Linked DNA regions of Homo sapiens: regions 2, 3, 4 and 5 are each linked to region 1. The links come from fine-mapping of genetic effects on gene expression. A gene starts in region 1. Each other region holds a variant in brackets. All regions are shown on one strand. Distances are between the middles of the regions.

Region 1 (4,105 bases):
GTACATCATTACACTTTTGAATGCAGAAATAGACATCTCTGCCACTATACAAGAAAACTCTAATTAAAGAGTTCACAAGGTTTCACTCAAATAGATATATTTATATATAAATATATACACAGCATTCAGTAGGCTTGTGTCAAAAAGGTAATTTCTGACCAAAAGACTTCATTTAAGTGACTGAATACTGGATCCTTCTGGTATTCACGCTCCACCTTTGAAAAAAGGCAAAGTCTGCTTAGATTGGGCAATTCCTTGTGATTTTAACGTTTTCGCTCCCCATGGTGGGAATAGTATATAAAGAAAACCTTCCAACTGCAGAAAGGGCATTTAAAAGTCTTTTTCATAAATAACGAATATCACAGTCCAAGTAAGAGAACACCCTGGGAAGATGATCATTCTTAGTTTTCCTTCCATTTTTTTTTTCTTTTTAAAAAGGTCCATTCAACTTGTCCTCCTTGTGAAATGGTTGAAAAATAAGTTCAGCACTTAAAAGATTCCGTGAATTTGTTGTTGTTGTTGTTGTGCAAAGAATAAAAGAAATCATGAACACCTGCGAAAGAGTGGGGGAGAAAGGCATGTTTAAGAGAATGTAACCTAAGGGCAGAGGCGGGCGACTGGCGCCGGGAGGAAGCCACAGTTTGAACATTTAACCAAACACTCAAAGATTGGGCAAACCCTGGCGTCCAGATGCAACACACACACTCGCCTCGACAGCGCAAATTAAACATTAAAATAGCAGAGACTCAAGGGAAAAACTTCCCAACCCAATCTCCTATTTGGATCTCCAACAGCAGTGCTACAGGCGCCAGTCTGCTTCTCGTAACAATTATTTGATTGAAAACAGCCCTTTAGTTAACAGATAGGGAAGTCTGGGATCCCACATCACAGGGTTGAAGGCACAGGGTAGCAATCCTCAACTAGCCCAGAGAATCCCAGAGGACTATAGTTTTAGGGAAGGAGGATCACTATGGAATTTGTGGCGGTAAGATTAATTACAGTGGAGGTTAGTACCTCATAGTACCAGAGGACTCGTAGGAAGATCCAGGGCATTACATTTGCTACAAAGCCAATACACACGTTCCTCGGCCGCCTTCGTAGTAAGTTATTGGCATCATTTCCTTTTAAAGGAAAATGTTCTGTGATCTCGAGCACCCAAAGCTACAAGCTCCTTCATGTCTAGTGAGACAATGTAGTACGGGTAACACCGCGAAGTAAGCATGCATTTACCAAATCAGACATTTTATAGATACACAAGCAAAAACACATGCGCGCGCGCGCACACACACCGAGGGGCAGTTTACCCACGGGTGGCACAAGCAAACACTCACCGCTTATTCAGCCACACAGTGCTTTGCTGTCATTTGACATTAACTCAGAAGGGAATTCAGAAGCCTGGAAAGAAAGAGGATAAAGAGTACGAGGTTAAGACAATGTTAAGTAGAAAGGGTTTTTTTTTTTTTTTTTTTTTTTTTGTAGTCCACAGACCAGCAAGTTCCATTAAACACGTTTATGGTAACAATTCAGATTTAAAGACAGACGCATTAACATGTCAGAACTTACTAGCAATTTCACGCACAGCTCAATCTACAGCAGATTCTGAAGAAAATAAAGTTAAATAGCTCATACGAAAGTCACCGTCTGGGCTACGGATCTCCTAGTGACAGCCCAGACGACCGCGGGAGTGTGCGGCGGCGGGGCGGGGACCCCGGAGCAGGTCTTACCTGCAAGGACAGGATGCTGATATCCGTGTTGAGGGTGGTCAGCGGCGTCCTGGACGCCTGGTTCTGCCCGGGTCTCTGGTGATGCAGGCTGACAATAGTGGGATGCGAGTCCAGGGCGATCTGCAGGTCCAAGATGTAGTCGATGACGTGCTGCAGGATTTCCATCTTGCTCACCTTCTTGTTCTGGGGGATGCTGGGCACCAGCTCCTTGAGCTTGGAGTAGCAGTCGTTCATGTTGTATAGCAGGCTCATCGGGTCGTCCACAGGGGTTTTGCTCCGGGAGATGCCCAGGCTGTGGTCCGACAGGCTGTTTTTCCTAACGGACCTCACGGGACTGAAGGCTTTCATGCTGACCGCGAGGGAAGGCGAGACCGGGAGGGAGCTGGCTGCCCTGAAGCTCAGGCCGCCGCTGCCGCCTGCTGAGCTAGCTGCGCTTGGCACCGGGCTCGGCTCAGAATGAAGCCCGAGCCCGGCGGGGCGGCTTTTATCCGCACTCGCCGGGGCCACACGCTGGAGCTTCCCTTCGTCCCCATTGGCGGAAGGTGGCACGTCTATCAAGACGAGCGGGCGCTTCCATTGGTGGGCGCGGGCGCGGGGCGTGGGCTTGGTTCTTCCGCGTTCGCAGCCAATCCCCGCGGGGTGGGCGGGGCGCGAGCCCAGCTGGGGTGGTAAATAGAGTACAGTACAGTAAGTGCGGGGCTGGCGGGGGGCGGGGGGCGGGGAGCGGCGGGCGGGGGGCGGGGAGGAGGGAGGCGGGAGGAGGGAGAGGAGGAGGGAGGAGGAAGAGAAGGGAAGATGGGGGAGGGGAAGGGGGAGGGGAAGGGGGAGGGGAAGGAGGAGGGAGAAGGGGGCAGACCCTGGGCGCCTAAATATGCATTCTTAATTCTAATTCCAAGCGCGCGGCGGGACCCTTGCCCTGGGGGTGTTCCCAGACCAAGCCCTACACACCTTAGAGCTGTCGGCAGCTCTAAAATCACAGCTACACGGGCGAGTTCAGCACCGCAGGGGGGAAGCCACAGTTCACTGCAACCCATCGGAGGGAGAGCGTGAGGAAAGATAGAAAGCATTTCAGAAGAAAGTGAAAACGCAAATTAGGTTGTCACTGAAGAGTCACGTTTGTAGAGTGAGTTCGTCTCTTCAGATAAGGAAAAGTTATGTTAACACAAACAAACCACCCACGCACGCATTCGACGACAGGCTTAGTGTGGGCTTTTGCAACCCGGAGCAGCGCGGGAGGCATTACTGTAAACTCAAGAAAATGAGTACTTATTGCAAACCATGCCCAACCTCACCGGTCGCTAAGGAGCTCTCACAGGCAGGGCGCTTTCAGGGTTCCTTTTCAAGAAGGAGGCAGGGCTATTATAATGATCGTATTAATCGGAAATAATTAGGAGAATTTGCATATTGAAACTACATTTACATACACTGCCCTTGAAAGGCTGCCGGTCTGTGCCCTTCCGTGTAGGTGGCAAAGTAATGTGATTAATTATGCACTAATTGTGATTTCTGGTGTCACATTCCAACACCTAGAGGAGTTCCAAAGCTTTGTGACAGATAGGTGGCCCTAGCCATTGATAGACATCTTCACACTAAGGAAAAAAAAATATTCTGTCATATGAGGTTTGGAATCTTTTCAGCACTAGTACTGAATACGGGTTCAAGGTTTTTTTTTTTTTTTTTGGCTGAAAATCTTTTAAGAACTCGTTCTTTCAGTCTAAGTTTTAAAAAGTTTGCAGCTATTTACTTAAATACCTTAATTTTCACATAATTGTAGCTTATCTAGAATTCTGTTTTGACCACAGTGTGTCAGTTTCTTGTTTTTGAAAATATTTGCTCCAGAAAACAATGAACTAGAAAACTCCAGGAAAGGCAATATTCAAATCTTATTTACTTTCTGCCTCAATCTCTACCTCCTTTGCATTTCAGAAAGCGGAAGGGGCAGGCCTAGAAGCTGAAAGAAAAGCTCGATAATGGGGAAACAGTGTTTTTTCCTTCAATTAATGATTAATTTCTCAGCTGGTGGGGCCAGCAGTCTCTGACCGTCACGTGACAGCTATGCGCCCCATGACGCCTCTCCAGGGAGGCAGAGTGGGTGGCACTGAGGTGGAGCTCACCTTCCTGAAATTCAGCCCCCTCAGTTTGGAGGAAGGAGGTAAACTGTTTCCTGTCCAGCCAGAAGTTTGCGGAGGGCCTTCCCCAGGCCAGGCAATGCTGCCTGCGACTCTGTCCCTGACAGCGTTGGATGCACCGTATCTCTTCTGATATTAAGTCTGGAAGTGATTTACTATCCGAGTCCTCCCACAGTTCGAGCCTTTTGATGTACTTTGTGTGCATGTGTTTCTGTCACATACGTGCCACAGTGGAACAGATTTTGTTTTGAC
Region 2 (4,129 bases), 270 kb after region 1:
TTATTAGACATAGGACCCTTTTCATTTCAAATGGAGTAAGATGACACTCATTTGGGAGAATTTAGGGAAACACCAGTCTGAATAGTAGAGGAATTGAATGAGCTACAGTAACAAAACTAAGATAGAAATGTCGCCTATTAGGAGTCCTTAGGGAGCTACAATTACGAATATTTAACGATGACTTATTTCCTGTAACAATTATTTGTGAGTGAGTGCTTTGGATGTGTTGAAACAATGTATTCTCTGATGCATTTTGATACTTCCCCCTCCACATACTGTTTATACACTTAAATTGCTGTGTGAAAGAAGAAAAGGATTGCTGGGTGTAAAGTTAAACTTCAGCCTAGTGTGAACGATTCCAAATCAGCCGATTCCAAGTTAATGAAATTTTACCTTAGTTCACACGAACAGGTTTAGTCTGCCAAAACGTGAACTATGCTTGGGGAAAGGGAAGTGGTGCAGGCAGTGTTTCGGGGTGAATAGACTTTGTGAGGACAGTCAACAGAAAGCAGAATTCCAGGAGCTTCCATTTTCTTTGTGGGTCACACACCCAGAACACACAGAATACACAGTTTTTAACACAATGTTAAAAATTGGTGGGCTTGTCTGGCACTGAGTGCTCAGCAACCTGCTCTTTGTGCATCGTCTCCATCTGAGATGAGCCAAGTCACAGCTTGTCTCCAGAGGATGAAGGACTTGCTCAAGACCAGTAGGTGTGCTGAGCCCAGAGGGCCAACTGTTCCCACCCAGTGCCGTGTGCCTGTGTGGCTGCCTCGCAGCTAGGCTGCGTCAACTTGCAACTTGGCCTCTGTGCTGGGAGGCAGCCACTCCTTCTTCCCTCTCTGAGGATTTTGACAATGTCTTCCTCATGACCCCTCATTATGTTCCAGCACCAGGAGCATCACTGCGAGGTGGCTGCACAGAAGTGGAGATCTGAGGTGGGCGGGAAGCCCCCTTTCTCCTTTAGGTTTGCATTTGAGGATGAGTCAAGAGGACTTAGGTCTATTTTTATTTTTTTGAGGCAGGGTCTCCCCCTGTCACCCAGGCTGGAGTGCAGTGATGTGATCATGGCTTAATGTAGCCTGGACCTCCTGGGCTCAATTGATCCTCCCACCTCAGCCTCCTGAGTAGCTGGGTAGCCAGGCAGGTGCATGCCACCATGCCTGGCTACTTTCGAATTTTTTGTAGAGATGGGCTTTCACCATGTCACCCAGGCTGGTCTTGAACTCCTGAGCTCAAGAGATCCACACACTCAGCTTTCCAAAGTGTTGGAATTACAGACATGAACCACCACGCCTGGCCATATTTATTAATTTTTAAAATGAAGGATCCAGGAGTAAAATTTTGGCCACTGAACAGAAGAACCTGCTGCAAGACAACACTCTTGATTTTTGTTGTTTGTCTGTTTGTTCGCACTATCTGCTGGGCTTTTTTTTTTTTTTTTTTAACTGTAGTTATCCTGACTTCAGATTTTTCCAGGTGATTTTTTTGGGGTGCAGACTTGAAGAAGGCTTGCCTCAAATCACCTGTCCCTGAAGTAGCCGGCAAGGGCAGTGCTGTGGGCTCAGCCAGTTCTGAAGTCTGAGGAACCTGGGCATTTCCAGTGCCCAGGTAATATATCTGTTTCTCACTTTTTCAAAATCACCTGATTGGAATATATATATATATATATTCATCATATATATAATGCAGAAACACTTAGACATGTGAAGCAAAGCTTCACTTTTATGGGCTTATTTTTAAAGGGTACATGCTGTTGTGTGCCAGATCATAGTTACCTTTGAATGATCGGGTTGTATCTACAAATAGCTTGCACACCTCTTGCTAAATGTTTTCCTGTTGGCAGAAGCCCGC[CA/A]GTGTGTTGAAAGACTTTCACAAGAGCTCTGGCCCATCTCTCTCACGGTCCTTCTGTATTTTATTGGCTGCTTTTGCTGATAAGAAATGCCTATGTGATTTGGACTGTAACTGCATCAGGAAAAAGTCAAAGTACTAAGTCCAGAGAGAGCCTCTTTATTTATTTTTTTAAAAGTATGTGTTTGCCTCTACAACCCAGATATTCTTTCTCCTCACCTCAGCAATTTGTTCACAGAGTACGTTACTCAGGGTGAGGTGGCCAGACTCACTTATTTGCCTGGGTAGCGCTGGTTTGCAACGAATTGTCCAGGTGTTGTAAGTAGTAACTTCTCCTTCTGCTCTCAAAAATGACCTTGTGTGGACAATACAGGATATGACCATCCTACTTAGAGTCCCCTTCCCCCACCCCTGACAGTTTCTGCACATTGCATTGACACCACATTTTTTGAAGAGGCACATTTACCTCTGGCTGGTCCTGTGTGTGAAAACAATTCTGTTCATTTCAAAGCTGTCCATGGTATAGTGGCCATGGTTTTTATCCTTGGCTTCTTTAGAAAAAACCCAAATGTACCTGGTTCCTCTTGACCAGTTTTCAACTGCAAACTGAGAGGGGGGAGGCATGCTTCCCTGAATTCTCATTCCCTTTGGTGCTGAGGCAAGGGGAGTACAAATGGTCTTTAAAGAAACAGTTTAGGCTGGATGCGGGGGCTCACACCTATAATTCCAGTATTTTGGGAGGCTGAGGCGGGTGGATCGCTTGAAGCCAGGAGTTCGAGACCAACCTGGGCAACATGGTGAAACTCTGTCTCTACTAATAATACAAAAATTAGCTGAGTGTGGTGGTGTGCCTGTAGTCCCAGCTACTTGGGAGGCTGAGGCATGAGAATTGCTTGAACCCGGGAGGCAGATTGCAGTGAGCTGAGATGGCACCACTGCACTGCACCCTGGGTGACAGAGAGAGACTGTGTCTCCAAAACAAAACAAAACAAAAAGAAAAGAAAAGAAAATTGAGAAGTTTGAAAACGCCTTGATGTTCGGGTGTGCTGGGGCAGCCTTCTCCAGCCTGCCTCTCAAGGGGCTCTGTGATGTGCTCTCCCTCCACAAGGAGCATTGGTGTGGTGCCATGCAGTTATTTGGGAGCCTGTTGTCCTATCCTGCCGTCTGTTGCAGTTTTACAATGTCATTTCCCCAGATTCCTTCAGGAATGTTTCCTCACAAAGGCCTGCTTTTGCAATGCCCCAGGGAGCGATTCTGTCTCATTTTCTTGCTCTTTTTCTTGCTTAGCACTTAATGAACTTTTCTTGGCTGTTTCAACTGTCAGCATTTAAAGTCTGCTGGTGAATGTTGGTTGGCTTTCTCTGTGCTAAACTGGACCATTCAGTGGCGATTATAGTTCTTCAACATCATGAGAAATTTGAGGGAAAGGCGAACCTTCCAAAAGTCTCTCAATGCAGCAGGAAGTGCGTCTGGCAGAAAAAGGAAGGGGAAAAAAAGCCCTCAAGGTCCATTCTCTTCTCATAAGACAGAATGGGGCATGTACTGGAAAGCCCTATGGAAATAAAGCCAAAAGGAAAAAGACAGATGCCACACTGATGTCTTCGCTTGTGTTGTTTGTATGACACAATTGGCATGTGGCCCATTCCTTCGCAGGTTAATAAATCATTAACAGAACGTGGTGTTAGACCGGGCAGTGCTCAGAGACTCCTAGACAAATATGACGTCATTCCTGACTTTAGGAAACTCTGAGATTAGTGGGAAGACCAGCAATAAGCTGATGCCGAGGGAATAACTTCCCAAGTGGGGAGACAGATCTGAAGCACCGTGAAGGCACCGAGGGCCACCATCTCCACCTGGGAAGGGCCTGGGAAGCAGACAATCCAGCAGGGAGCCAGCTAGCCTGGGTATGCAGCAGGCACAGGCCTGTCTTCAAGGGTGCCACGTTGAGGGAATTGGAAATATTAATAGTTCAGAATGGCCAGAGGAATGGTTCTTTCAGGGCACCAAGTGGCAGGTTCATTCATTCATCCATTCTAGTTATTCATGGAGAACCCATCATGCTTTACTAAATGTGAGGCCGACATTTATGGAGGCCTGGCTAGAAAAGCAGGAGAGACCGGGAGGGCCTCAGGTGCCGACCGCAGCACAGGCCTTATCTGGAAAGCCATGGAGGGCCAGGGTGGCTCTCACCAGGACATGGACATGATCAGACGTGTGTGTCGGCCATCGTGTGCGAGACATTCTGGGGACCCCAGCCTGGGGGCACTGGGGCTGGGCA
Region 3 (4,105 bases), 380 kb after region 1:
TCAGTAAAATGGATTGAATGTGGGGTTATCCAACCATGGTGTGGTGCCTTGCTGCCTCTGACACGGGGCTGATGAGATCTGAGTGCTTGGCACTATCTTACAGGAATGTCAAAATCAGATTTGGTCGGTAGCCAGCTTTCTACCTTCTCTGGAACATGGAGAGAACATCTGGGAAAAAGCTCAACTTATTACCCACAGCCCCAGACATTCCCATACCACCTCATCTCTCAGAACCTGACTCCACCCTGCTAACTGGCCTTGTGTACCGCTTCCATAGCTGACCATGGTCACGAACCTGCTTTAACATCTTATCTTTGTCTTAGAGGCGTTATACAGAATCATGGCTCAATTTTTCAAAGCTCACAACAAAACCACAATATCTATTTCTAAATTAAAAATTCAGATTTCCAGACTTCCCTAGCTACTGTATCTTCTCCCTCTCTTTTGGAGAAATTGTCTTTCAACATCTCCTCCAGAGTTGAGAGTTTTAAACCCATCCTCCGGGACAGGCTTCAGGGGTTCTCTGAATCCTCTTTCACATTCTGTGTAAACTTCTCTGTGTTTATGAGCCTTTGTCTATATTTCTGGAGGGAAGGCCCACCTGTTTATCAGATACTCATAGTGACCCTAAGGCCTCTCATGGGTTAAAAAATCTGTTACAGAGATTTCCCATGATTTTGAAGGCAGAAAGGATCTGAGATAGTGCTTAATTGAAACTCTCATTTCACATACAGGGAAACTGAGGCCCATAGAGATATAATTCTTTTTCTCAGACCAGTGCAACAAGGTAGTGACATCATAGCATGGGAGTCCAGAAGCAAAAATTTGATATTTTTTAAACTTGTAAATACCTTCCATTGTTCCTCATCTCACCTAAGATTGGATTCTGGGAAGCCTGGTAATTTGTGCACAGGGAGTAAGGAGGTTAGATGACTGTCTTTTGGAAGAACTGTTTTTCTCCTTTGCTTTTTTGGTAATTTACTCTGAAAGCTGGTAGGTATTTTATTTCCAGACTTGTTCAGAAAATCCTGTTCACGCTGTTAAAGTCTTTGCCCATGCAAATACCCAGTGCTGTTCTTGGCCAGCAGGAACCGTCACACTGGGACGTTGCTCCATTGTGCGTGTGTGCACGTTTCCAGGCATGTGCGCAAGTGTGCACTTGGTAATGCAATTGCAAAGCAAACTGCAAATGCCCATAATAGGAATCAAGAGAAAAGTCTCAAGTTAGACTTTTGTTTAACACTTGGCTTCCTAGAAGTTTGTAAAGAAGGTGTCTGTTTAGGGAAAGCCTTATTAAGCCTGGATGGTTGCCCTTAGCAAATGAAAGTGTTGACTAAACCTTGCTCTCTGTTGTGAAATGTAAGTCTAGTGAAATTCAAACACATTGTAAATTTACTAATCAGCTGTAATCAAAGTAGAGGGATATAAATACTCCCAGAGGGTGGCTCCCTGTGAGGACAACTGATGAGGTGACTTGGGAGGCCGTGGGTGGCTCTTAGGAGAGTTAAGGATGTCCATGGCCATCCCTGCTCCAGCATGAGCCTGTGTTTGTATGAAAGCACAGACTCCAAAACATCCTAGAAGATAGCTGAGAGAACACCTAGAATGAAACTTGTATTTTACCAGAAAACTAAGCCAAGGTCCCTAGAGAAATGGCTTTGCTTAGGCTTCACACTGTGGCTCAATGGCAGGTCAGAGACGAGGGCCCCACACCTCGGTGTCTAGCCAGGGATCTGGCCCTAGCACCGTGTTGCTGAGTCATGTCGGGC[T/A]GCCTAGGGGATGTCGCAGAAGGAGCTCCTGGAGGACACATGCGTTCATCATCTGCTCAAAACTGCACAGCAGGTGAATGGTGACATTGACACATCAGAAAAATAACAGACTGCTTGGAGGGCGACGTGCTAAGCACTTAACGGGAATTATCTTAGTAAGTCTTTACGCCACTGTGATGAAGTAGGTAGCGTTCTCATAATTGCCATTTTACAGATGAGGACACTGAGGTTCTGGGAGGTTAAGAAACTTGCCCAAATGATGTAGTAGGTGGCCAAGCTGGAATTCCAAAGCAAGGATTTGTAAAGATTATGCTAATCAAAACTCCCACTGCCCTTGTCTGTTTTTGTTCTTCCCCTAAAGCATACCTACGTTTTCTTGTCTCAGGGAGCATGATGTGTGAAGGACTTTGGTTCTCATTGGCCAGAGACACCGAGTCCATCTCAGTCTGAAGTCCTGGGATCTGAGATTCCCTGAGTGTGTGGATTCCCTGCTAGGCAGGATGCAGTTTGACTGACGAGTTCCTTTTCTTTTATTTTCTTCTATTTAGCGACTTGCTTTTCCTGATATCCTCTTTTAGGAGGCTGTTAGGCCCCTGGGCCAGAGGCCTTTTATAGCACCCAAAAAATTGCCTTGTAGCAATCTGACAATTTTTTATAATAATTTGGGTCTTATTTCTAAATACAGTAACAATTTGGGGTCTTTTGTGTTATTTTTGTGTTTTGGCTCACCATCATTCAGTTTGGATTTTGTTGTGTGAAGTTCCCCAACTCCTGGCCTATTTCCATCCACCCTTTTATTCATGGGATAAATAGTAACTGTGTACCTACCCCCAGAACCTCCTATGACAAGGCACCCTAGGGCTCAGAGTAAGTTGTCTTCCCCCCCCCCTTTTTTTGACTATTGATAACACAAATAAAGCTGCAATAACTATCTTGGTTGAGACACAGCTTTCTAAATGCTTGTCGATAGCTTGCTGGTGTACGACCTTAGTTTTTACCGCGTCCCTGCCTTGACCACCCATCCTGCCCTCAAGAGGACACAGGGCTCCTCTCTGGGAAGATCCAGGGTTGGCAGAAAGGAAAGATTTCCTTCTTGACTTGTGATATGGCCTCTGTGCCAGGCCCTGTGCTAGGCCCTGGGAATGGAGTGGGGAGCGAGGCTCAGCCCTGTCCTCTGGACAGCCTGGACTGGCTCTCTGCATCTTACATTTGATTTTTAACAACAGTAGGAGAGGATGAACGCTGGAGAGGAACAGAAACCAGAGATCTGGGCTTGCAGCCCTCCCTGTTAACCTCGACACGGCCCCCTGTGTCCTCTTGGTTTCCTGTCCCTCACCACAAGAAGCAGTGTTCAAATCGGTTTCTAGATGGCTCCGATGTGGCCACGTTTGGGTGGGTCTGGTGCATGTTGGCTCAGCTGGGAACATGCCAGTGTTTGGGGGTTGTTGTTGTGCAAGCCTGAGGGCCGGCTCACTGCACGAGGTCAGGGTGTCCTGGTGGGCCTTGTTCTGCTTTGTGATGACAGCAGCCCTCCAAGACGGTCAAGCTTGACCATATAAATTACCGTATAAATAACCATGATGGGTATGAATGACTCACTTAATGATTTCATTTCTGTATTTCACACCTTTTGGTGCTACCATGCTATGCATTGAGGGTCCAGGATGTGTAAGGCACTAGCACAGCACCTGAGATATTTTTGAGTGGTGGGGCAGAGAATGTGGTACAAAAAGATGAATGAGGCTGGATGCAGTGGCTCACGCCTGTAATCACAGTGCTTTGGGAGGCTGAGTGGGGAGTATTGCTTGAGGCCAGGAGTTTGAGACAGCACTGAGGGTCCAGGATGTGTAAGGCACTAGTACAGCACCTGAGATATTTCTGAGTGGTGGGACAGAGAATATGGTACAAAAAGATGAATGAGACTGGATGCAGTGGCTCACGCCTGTAATCACAGTGCTTTGGGAGGCTGAGGGGGGAGGATCGCTTGAGGCCAGGAGTTTGAGACCAGCCTGGTCAACACAGCAAGATTCTGTTTCTTACATTAAAAACAGCAACAACAACAACAACAACAACAACAACAAACAACCACCCATGAACAAGATCTAAGGAGTGCAGGGAAGGCAGTGGGTGCCTCTCAGCACACAGTGAGGCTGGTGCGCTGAGAGGTTTCCCCTCATTGGGATTTCTTTGTTCTCTTTGCTATTCCTCCCATTCAAGCAACCCTTTCTCTGCTCTTCCCTAGGTAAGGGGTGTGAGAGCAGAAAGACAAGCAGTCCTCTTTCGGCTGCAGTGACCATTGGGGTGCTCTGCCCAGGTCTCCCCGCTAGCTGCAGTGA
Region 4 (4,129 bases), 240 kb after region 1:
CCCCAAACTCCAAGTGTGTTTTCATTCCATGGCTGTTTGCTTGGTCTGGAACTGTTACCGGAAAGGGGTCCTGATCTAGACCCCAAGAGAGGGTTCTTGGATCCTATGCAAGAAATAATTTGGGGCAAGTCCACAGAGTAAAGTGAAAGCAGTTTATCAGAGAAGCAAAGAAATAAAAGAATGGAGTACCCTAGACAGAGTAGCCCTGAGGGCTGCTGGTTGGCGATTTTAATAGTTATTTCTTGATCATATGGGAAACAATGGATTGTTGGTGAGTTTTCCTGGAAAGTGGTGGGGATTTCCTGAAACTGAGGGTTCCTCTTCCCTTTGGACCATGTAGGGTAACTTCCAGACATTGCCATGGCATTTGTAAATGGTCATGGCACTGGTGGGAGTGTCTTTTAGCATGCGATGCTTTATAATGGCATATAATGAGCATTGAGGATGACTGTCTTGGTTTTGGTGGGTTTCGGCCAGCTTCTTTACCACATCCTGTTTTATCAGTGGGGTCTTTGTGACTTGTGTCTTGTGCCACCCTTCTGTCTCATCCTGTGACTTAGAATGCCTAACCTTCTGGGAATGCAGCCCAGCAGGTCTCAGCCTCACTTTACCCAGCCTGTATTCAAGATGGAGTCACTCTGGTTCAGACGCTTCTGACAGAACTCACTTGAACTCACCTTCTGGGACCTGATTTTGCTATTTCCTTCCTAGGAAGCTTTCTCAGATACCCCCAGGAGACTAACTGCTGCTTTCAGAGCTGTTTGCTTGTCTTCTAACGCTTATGGGAGCACAAGTGACTCATATTCATATGTGTATTCATTCAACAAATATTTACTGCCATCCTACCATGTGCCAGGCACTATGACACATATCTGGGATAAAAGGAGAGAACCAAGATCTAGTCCTTGGAGATGCCCAGATGACTGTGCCTTGAGTCTAATTCCAATTACATTGTGAGGCTGTGGGGACCCCTGGGCTCTGGGGGTCCTTCCCTGCAGGATCCAGTGGGGACAGCACTCCATTCTGGATGCTCTGGTTCTTCATCAGTAGAGTGATGAGGTTGGAGTAGATGGTACTTAAAGTGTCTTCCGGTTCTGAAATTCTGTGAACTGCGGTCACCTAAGGGAGGAATTAAAAAAAAAAATTATCTCTTAATTAGTAAAGTAAAATACTTTCTTTGTAGAAAGTTTTACATACAGAGAATCCAAAAGAAAAGAAAATCAGCATAATTCTACCACTCAGGAATAATCCCCATTAACCTTTTACTTTGATAATTTGTCTTTTATTTTGCATGTATTACTTGAACGAGCTCAAGAACAGCTACTTTTTTGTTTCCTGACTTGAATTCCCACAGGGATATTTCTTTCCCTCAGTCCATCTTCCCCTTCAACATGATTGTTATGGTTTAATATTACTGCTAGCCTTATTATAATCACTATTATCATTAAGTGGCATTTATCAAATATTGACAACAGACCAGGCACTATGTGGAGTGTTTTGTGTTCCTGAGACCTTTTAATTCCCCAGTGATCAGGTGAGCTAGGTGCTGTTGTTCCCATTTGACAGAGGAGGAATTTGAGCCTGACAGTGCTTAAGCAATTGGCTAAAGGTCATACCTTTGTAAGTGTCAGAGGTGTTTGAACCAGAGCAACTCCATCTTGAATAGGAGCTGGGTAAAATGTGGCTGAGACATACTGGGCTGCATTCCCAGAAGGTTAAG[G/T]CATTCTAAGTCACAGGATGAGATAGGAATTTGGCACAAGATACAGGTCACAAAGACCTTGCTGATAAAACAAGTTGCAGTAAAGAAGCTGGCCAAAACGCACCAAAACCAAGATGGTGATGAGAGTGATCTCTGGTCGTCCTCACTGCTACACTCCCACCAGCGCCATGACAGTTTACAAATGCCGTGGCAATGTCAGGAAGTTACCCTATCTGGTCCAAAAAGGGGAGGCATGAATAATCCACCCCTTGTTTAGCATATCATCAAGAAATAACCATAAAAATGGGCAACCAGCAGCCCTCGGGCTGCTCTGCCTATGGAGTTCCCTTACATATCCCACCCTTCTTTTATTCCTTTACTTTTTAAATAAACTTGCGTTTGCTTTACTTTATGGACTCGCCTCAAATTTTTTCTTACACGAGATCCCCCTCTCTTGGGGTCTGGATTGGGACCCCTTTCTGGCAACAGTTTTCCAGGCCATGGAGCCCAGATATCCTGAGTGGATGCACATCCTTCCCGTGTCTGAGCTCTCAGGCATCAGACCAGCCCCCTATGGCTGACCCTTTAGATTGTTCCCAGTGTCCCAGCATTATAAAAAATACTCTAATTGAAATCATTGCAGCTAGAAATTTGCACATGATCCATTCTTATTTTCTTTTTCTTTTTTTTTTTGAGACAGAGTTTTGCTCTTGTTGTCCAGGCTGGAGTGCAATGGCACGATCTCAGCTCACTGCAACTTCCACCTCCCGGTTTCAAGCAATTCTCCTGCCTCAGCCTCCTGAATAGCTGGGATTACAGGCATGTACCACCATGCCTGGCTAATTTTGTATTTTTAGTAGAGACAGGGTTTCTCCTTGTTGGTCAGGCTGGTCTCGAACTCCCGACCTCAGGTGATCAGCCCACCTCGGCCTCCCAAAGTGCTGGGATTACAGTAGTGAGCCACCGAGCCAGGCCGATCCATTATTTTCTTTAGATAAATCCTTAGTGGTAGAATTGCAAAGAGAAAGGTTGTGTTAACTTTTGAATATATGCTGCCAAACTCCTCCTTACCCAACAAGCAGAGGTTGTAACAATTTAGTGCCTCCAAAACCAGCAATGAGCAGCCAAGGGGAACTGATACAATGCTGAGGAAGAGAAGAAAAGATCAGATGCAGTGAAAGGAGACAGGGAGGCGGGGCGAGGAGGAGCCATCCCCAGTAGCAGCCCCCTGGCTGTTGTTCAGCACCAGGGATCCTTGATTTGCAGCAGGCTAAAGGGACATTACAGGTCATGGCTTTTACCCAGCTCTGTCATCTAAAGTTATTGACATTAAATAAATGCTCACTTTTCATTTGCTTCAAATTAAAAAAAAAATACATGCCTTTATTGTCTTTCTCTGCTAAGCCAAACCTGAGGCTTGTGCCAGCTCTTTCCATGTGGAAATGTTAGATGAAATTCCAGTGCCATCAAATGAGACCTTTATTCCTCCACCTGCACATTAGGACTCGAATAAACACGTTATCAGCTCGTGAAAATGATGGCAAACAGGTGACTGAAGGATTTGATAAGTCAGCAGCAAAGATTAACAGTTCTTTTCAGAGAAAGCTGTGAGAGGTTCCCCTATTTAAAACAATTGTGGCATGTGAATTTGCAGCACTTAAATCATTATCGGCAATTAGTCCTTGTCAAAAAGGTTGCAGCTGGCTTCAATTACAGGTAAGAATTTTATAATTTAAACTTAGTAGTATGTCTGATAAGTAGGACTTGGAGGAACACCCTCAGGGAGATTTGCAATTTGAGAAAAACTTAAAGACATTTCATAATTCAAAAATTCATTATTTTCAGCAATGCTTTGTTATTGACATCTATTAAGCTTCTAGAAAAAATTTCCATAAACTTCATGCTTCAGCTGTTTTCTTCCCTAACAGAAAAATTACTGATGATTAAAAATTGCTTTTTAAATTATAAAAACACTACATGCACACTATTAAAAAAAATCCAAGCAGCACAGAAGGATACAAAATAAGTCTCTTTCTAGACATCTCCCCATTCTTGGACACCCATGCCCCAAAGATAAGTACTTTTGCTTTCAATTGTTTTAGACATTATCATCATAACTTCATCTCAAATTATTTTTACCTTATTCTTGATCAATCAGCTTTGGAAAGTGTATATTAACTCCTCACTAGGAAAGATAAAGAGTGTAGGGCCCTTCCGTACTCTACCATCTCTCTTTCATATGTTGATTCTTGCTGATTATATTTATTGTGAAATCTATCTGTAAACTTTAAGTAATATGCTTCTCTATTTCTTGACCCTTCAGCTTTAGATCTGCACCATTCTAATAGTGGACATTATTGTTATTACCTATTACGACGGGTATCTCATTGTTTTAATTTGGAATTCCCTAGTGACGCGTGATGTTATATG
Region 5 (4,129 bases), 250 kb after region 1:
GCTCATGAAAAGGCAAATTTTTATTTCCACTGGTTTTGACTTCCATTATGTGGGGTGGTCTCTGTTTAGTTCTCTGCTCTCTTTTCAACCTCTTCTCTATGTCTGGACAGCTACGGGGTGGAGACAGTCCACTCAAGATTTCTACCAGCAAGGATTCGCCTTTATAACCAATCCTTTCATGCCAGATTTCTAAAAAAATAATAATAAAAATAATTTACAAAAAGCCTCTCTTGGGAGCAGCTGTCAGGCCACACAACTTATAATTACAGGGGGAATATCTGAAGCTTTCGCTGCACTTCCACGTGGTTCCTGGGGATTTCTTCTTGGTCATGTTGCTTTAATTAAGTGTGGTCATCCCAGCAATCTTGCATTAACATTCTTGAGAAAGTAATGAAATAAACCAGGCATGGATGGGGTTGCCTGACTCAAGTGTTTGGCCCATAGAAGGAAGGGATGATAGTTTCTGCATCTTTAAATTGCTAGGGTTTTGCATATGTGTGGGGTTCTGTTGTGAACTGGAGAAACAAAAGAACGAGTGATTAAAAGAATGGATGAGTGGATAGAGGTGTGCAGTAGACATTGTTTGCATTAACTCCTCATCATAGCTGTACAGATGCAGGTGTTTGTGTTTCTTGACCACCCCGCCCAGCACTTCCTCCATTAGGTTAGAATTTTATTAAAATCTGGACCTTCCTTCCTCCCTTCCCTTCCTCCTTTCTTTTTTGCTATCTCCTTTTCTTCTTCCTCTTCTCCTCCTCCCTCTTCTTCCTTGGATCAGGTTTTCTGTGAGCCATCAGCTTTACAGCTCCATGAAGAACTCTCTTCTCTCATTAACTATGTTTTCCACCCTTACCTTTATATAATATCCCAAAGCAGGGCCAACATATCCAGGGGCTCAATGCCTCAGGCCTGCACACTTTCAGGGACCTATGAAATGTGTTAATGCTTGTGTTTTGAATCAGAAGATTAAAAAAAGGAAACAACAGATGCTGGAGAGGATGTGGAGAAATAAGAACGCTTTTACACTGTCGGTGGGAGTATAAATAAGTTCAACCATTGTGGAAGACAGTGTGGCGATTCCTCAAGGATCTAGAACCAGAAATGCCATTTGACTCAGCTATCCCATTACTGGGTATATACCCAAAGCATTATAAATCATTCTACTATAAAGACACATGCACACGTATGTTTATTGCAGCACTGTTCACAATAGCAAAGACTTGGAATCAGCCCAAATGCCCATCAATCATAGACTGGAGAAAGAAAATGTGGCACATACACCATGGAATACTATGCAGCTATAAAAAAGGATGAGTTCGTGTCCTTTGCAGGGACATGGATGAAGCTGGAAACCATCATTCTCAGCAAACTAACACAAGAACATAAAAGCAAACATCGCATGTTCTCACTTCTAAGTGGGAGTTGAACAGTGAGAACACGTGGACACAGGGAGGGGAACATCACACACTGGAGCCTGTTGGGGGGTTGGGGGTTAGGGGAGGGATAGCATTAGGAGAAATACCTAATATAGATGACAGGTTGATGGGTGCAGCAAACCACCATGGCACGTGTATACCTATGTAACAAACCTGCACGTTCTGCACAGGTATCCCAGAACTTAAAGTATAATAAAAAAAATTTTAAAAAGGAAACGTTAAAGAAAATATCTTACTATATAGTATTAACATATTTCTCTTTATACCAAGACATAGTAAACTAATTTTTAATATTATTTTACATAGGAAGGGACTCCTGGAGGCAAAGGTGCCTAGAGTCCACCAAAGCCATAATGAGACCATGTCCTGAGGCTTCATGTATTTTGATGCAGCCAGTGGGGCTCAACTGTGGCTGGACAGTAAAGTCACCTGGGGAGCTTTTGAATAAAGCCCAGGCTCACACCATTCTTTGGGATTCTGAATGAATATGTCTGGGGTGGGGCTGGGGCACTGGTTATTTAAAGCTCCTTAGGTTATTTGAATGTGTGGTCAGGACTAGAAACTAGTGCTCTAGATGCTTCTCTGACTCCATCTTGTGCACCAGTCACCTGGGAGCTTGCTGAAATGCAGTCCCTGATTCGTTGGCCTGGGGGAAATGGCCAAGACCCTGCACTTCTGACAAGCTTCTCGCTATGGTTAAGGCAAAGCTGCTGCTTCCTGGCCCACCCTTCTGCGGCAGGGGTCTGGAGTATGGGATCTGCACGCAGCGTGCAGGCTCTGGAGCCTGAAGGAACGTAGCAGCTGCTATTTATTGACCACCCACTATTTCCTAGTCACTAACTATGCTTTGCACACCGTTTCTCATGTCACAACCACCTCGTGAGGGAGGTAGCCTTGTCTCTATTTTACAGGTGAAATAATTGAGGTCCAGAGAAGTTAAGATGGGAGCCTAAGAATCCCCGTAAATGAAGTGGTGGTGCTGGGACTCAAATGAGGCCTGAGAAACTCCAAGTCCATGATCTTCCCCAGTACCAAGCCACCCCCAACAG[C/G]TGGAGTAGTCTTCCTTCCAGAGGGCAGTACTTACAGAGGCCTTCCTTACAGAGGGCAGTACTTACAGAGAGGCCTTCCTTCCAGAGGGCAGTACTTACAGAGGCCTTCCTTCCAGAGGGCAGTACTTACAGAGGCCTTCCTTCCAGAGGGCAGTACTGCACACCTGCACCTGAGAGGTCAGGGCATTCCTGCCCATGGCTCAAAAGAAAAAAGAAGCACAGCTTAAAAAGAGTGAAAACAGGCCAGGCACGGTGGCTCACGCCTGTAATCCCTGGCCTTTGGGAGGCCGAGGTGGGAGGATCACTTGAGCTCAGGAGTTTGAAACCAGCCTGGCCAACATGATGAAACCCCATCTCTACTAAAACTACAAAAAAATTTAGCTGGGAGTGGTGGCGCATGCCTGTGATCTCAGCTACTCTGGAAGCTGAGGCAGGAAAATTGCTTGAACCTGGGAAGTGGAGGCTGCAGTGAGCCCGTATCCCGCCACTGTACTCCAGCCTGGGCGACAGAGCAAGACTCTGTCAAAAAAAAAAAAAAAAAAAAAAAAGAAGTGAAAACATAAAAGTTAAAAGTGAAAGCAAAAGTGCATAGTTATATTACTTTTGATTTCTCCTAATTCCAGCCTCTCTTGCATCCAAATGTTCGATTAATCTCCCTTACATTGCTCTAATAGCATCTTTCCCCTGCGCAAGAGGAGTCTCTATGCTGATCACATCCTGGCTAAAGTCTGACCAGTGATCAAGGACCTGCACTATCTGGCTTTACCGCCATGTAAACTCACCCACATTCACTCACTCACTCAGTGAACATTTGTTAAGTATCTACCTTGATAGAAGACTCCTCCATGTTGGAACTCTTGTGTTGTTGAAGGAGCCAGTGATGTTTGGATGAGCAATAAAGACACATAACTTATGTATTATCGTATATTCATTCCACGTGAAACTTAATTTTCTTGTCATCATTTTAGCAACATAACAAATTATATTGTTATACTTAAGATTTCCACAGAATTTGGGTTCTGGTAACAGTAAAGATCTAAAGGATTAAAATATCAAATACAATTGTATTCAAGATATACAAAATTTGAATACATTTTCATTAAAATATAAATTTAAAAATATTTTAATTCAAGACATTAAAGTTATTTCTTTTCCATGTATGTTTTCAAAAAGTTATTTTTCTTTCAAATTGTTTAACATAATTTGCTCAAAAGTATACGTTATAATTAATACATTTCAACGATTAACATCAAATTATAATAATACAGGTGAAGTTTTTAGTTACTTTTGAAAAATAAATACCTTATTACAGTTTTAATAGCAACTCCTTGCAATTCTAGTGTTCAATAGTCCTTTGGTTGCCCATGTAAAAGATTAGTGTCATGTTATATGCATATGATGTCTATATCCACCTATCTATGAATGTGACAGTAGTATGAATCATTTAATGTTGCAGAATGTTCCTCAGTCACCATCTGCTGCAGACACCATACCGATTTGTGTATATCTCTGGAACCATGAACTGGAACATGAGTAGAAGCAAGGACAGGACAGTTGGCACCTCTAGGGATCTACGGTAGAGCTGCCCTCTGAGAGGGAGGATTGGAGAGAGGCATCCCTCTGTCTTTCCTCTCATCTAATTGT

Which allele goes with the higher level. Alleles are on the strand shown, and positions count from the first base shown. SD is a standard deviation of normalised expression in the study named. Not every link is listed here.
As copies of G replace T in region 4, the expression in adrenal gland of the gene that starts at base 2,182 in region 1 goes down (small effect, 0.30 SD a copy in GTEx).

The links. PIP is the estimated chance that this variant, and not a neighbour inherited with it, causes the effect.
Region 2: its variant is fine-mapped to the expression of ID2 in whole blood (TOPMed, PIP above 0.99).
Region 3: its variant is fine-mapped to the expression of ID2 in whole blood (INTERVAL, PIP above 0.99).
Region 4: its variant is fine-mapped to the expression of ID2 in adrenal gland (GTEx, PIP 0.94).
Region 5: its variant is fine-mapped to the expression of ID2 in whole blood (TOPMed, PIP above 0.99).

The regions. Positions count from the first base shown.
Region 1 is chr2:8,680,133-8,684,237 of GRCh38, reverse strand. ID2 (inhibitor of DNA binding 2) reads right to left here and starts at 2,182. Exons shown (of 3, transcript NM_002166.5): 1 at 1,725-2,182; 2 at 1,332-1,395; 3 at 1-553. The coding sequence starts at 2,072. The coding sequence ends at 1,339. It overlaps ID2-AS1 (ID2 antisense RNA 1), which reads left to right and starts at 2,375. Exons shown (of 4, transcript NR_110154.1): 1 at 2,375-2,411. RefSeq lists enhancers at 1,943-1,992, 2,480-2,983.
Region 2 is chr2:8,411,757-8,415,885 of GRCh38, reverse strand. No RefSeq gene overlaps it. Among named protein-coding and RNA genes, the nearest start is that of LINC00299, 85 kb to the right of the region's middle. The variant CA/A (reference allele first, on the strand shown) is at 1,855.
Region 3 is chr2:8,302,695-8,306,799 of GRCh38, reverse strand. The region is part of intron 2 of LINC00299 (long intergenic non-protein coding RNA 299); the gene reads left to right. Among named protein-coding and RNA genes, the nearest start is that of LINC00299, 24 kb to the left of the region's middle. RefSeq lists an enhancer at 2,703-2,922. The variant T/A (reference allele first, on the strand shown) is at 1,770.
Region 4 is chr2:8,444,514-8,448,642 of GRCh38, reverse strand. No RefSeq gene overlaps it. Among named protein-coding and RNA genes, the nearest start is that of LINC00299, 120 kb to the right of the region's middle. RefSeq lists an enhancer at 344-1,543. The variant G/T (reference allele first, on the strand shown) is at 1,721.
Region 5 is chr2:8,432,022-8,436,150 of GRCh38, reverse strand. No RefSeq gene overlaps it. Among named protein-coding and RNA genes, the nearest start is that of LINC00299, 110 kb to the right of the region's middle. The variant C/G (reference allele first, on the strand shown) is at 2,486.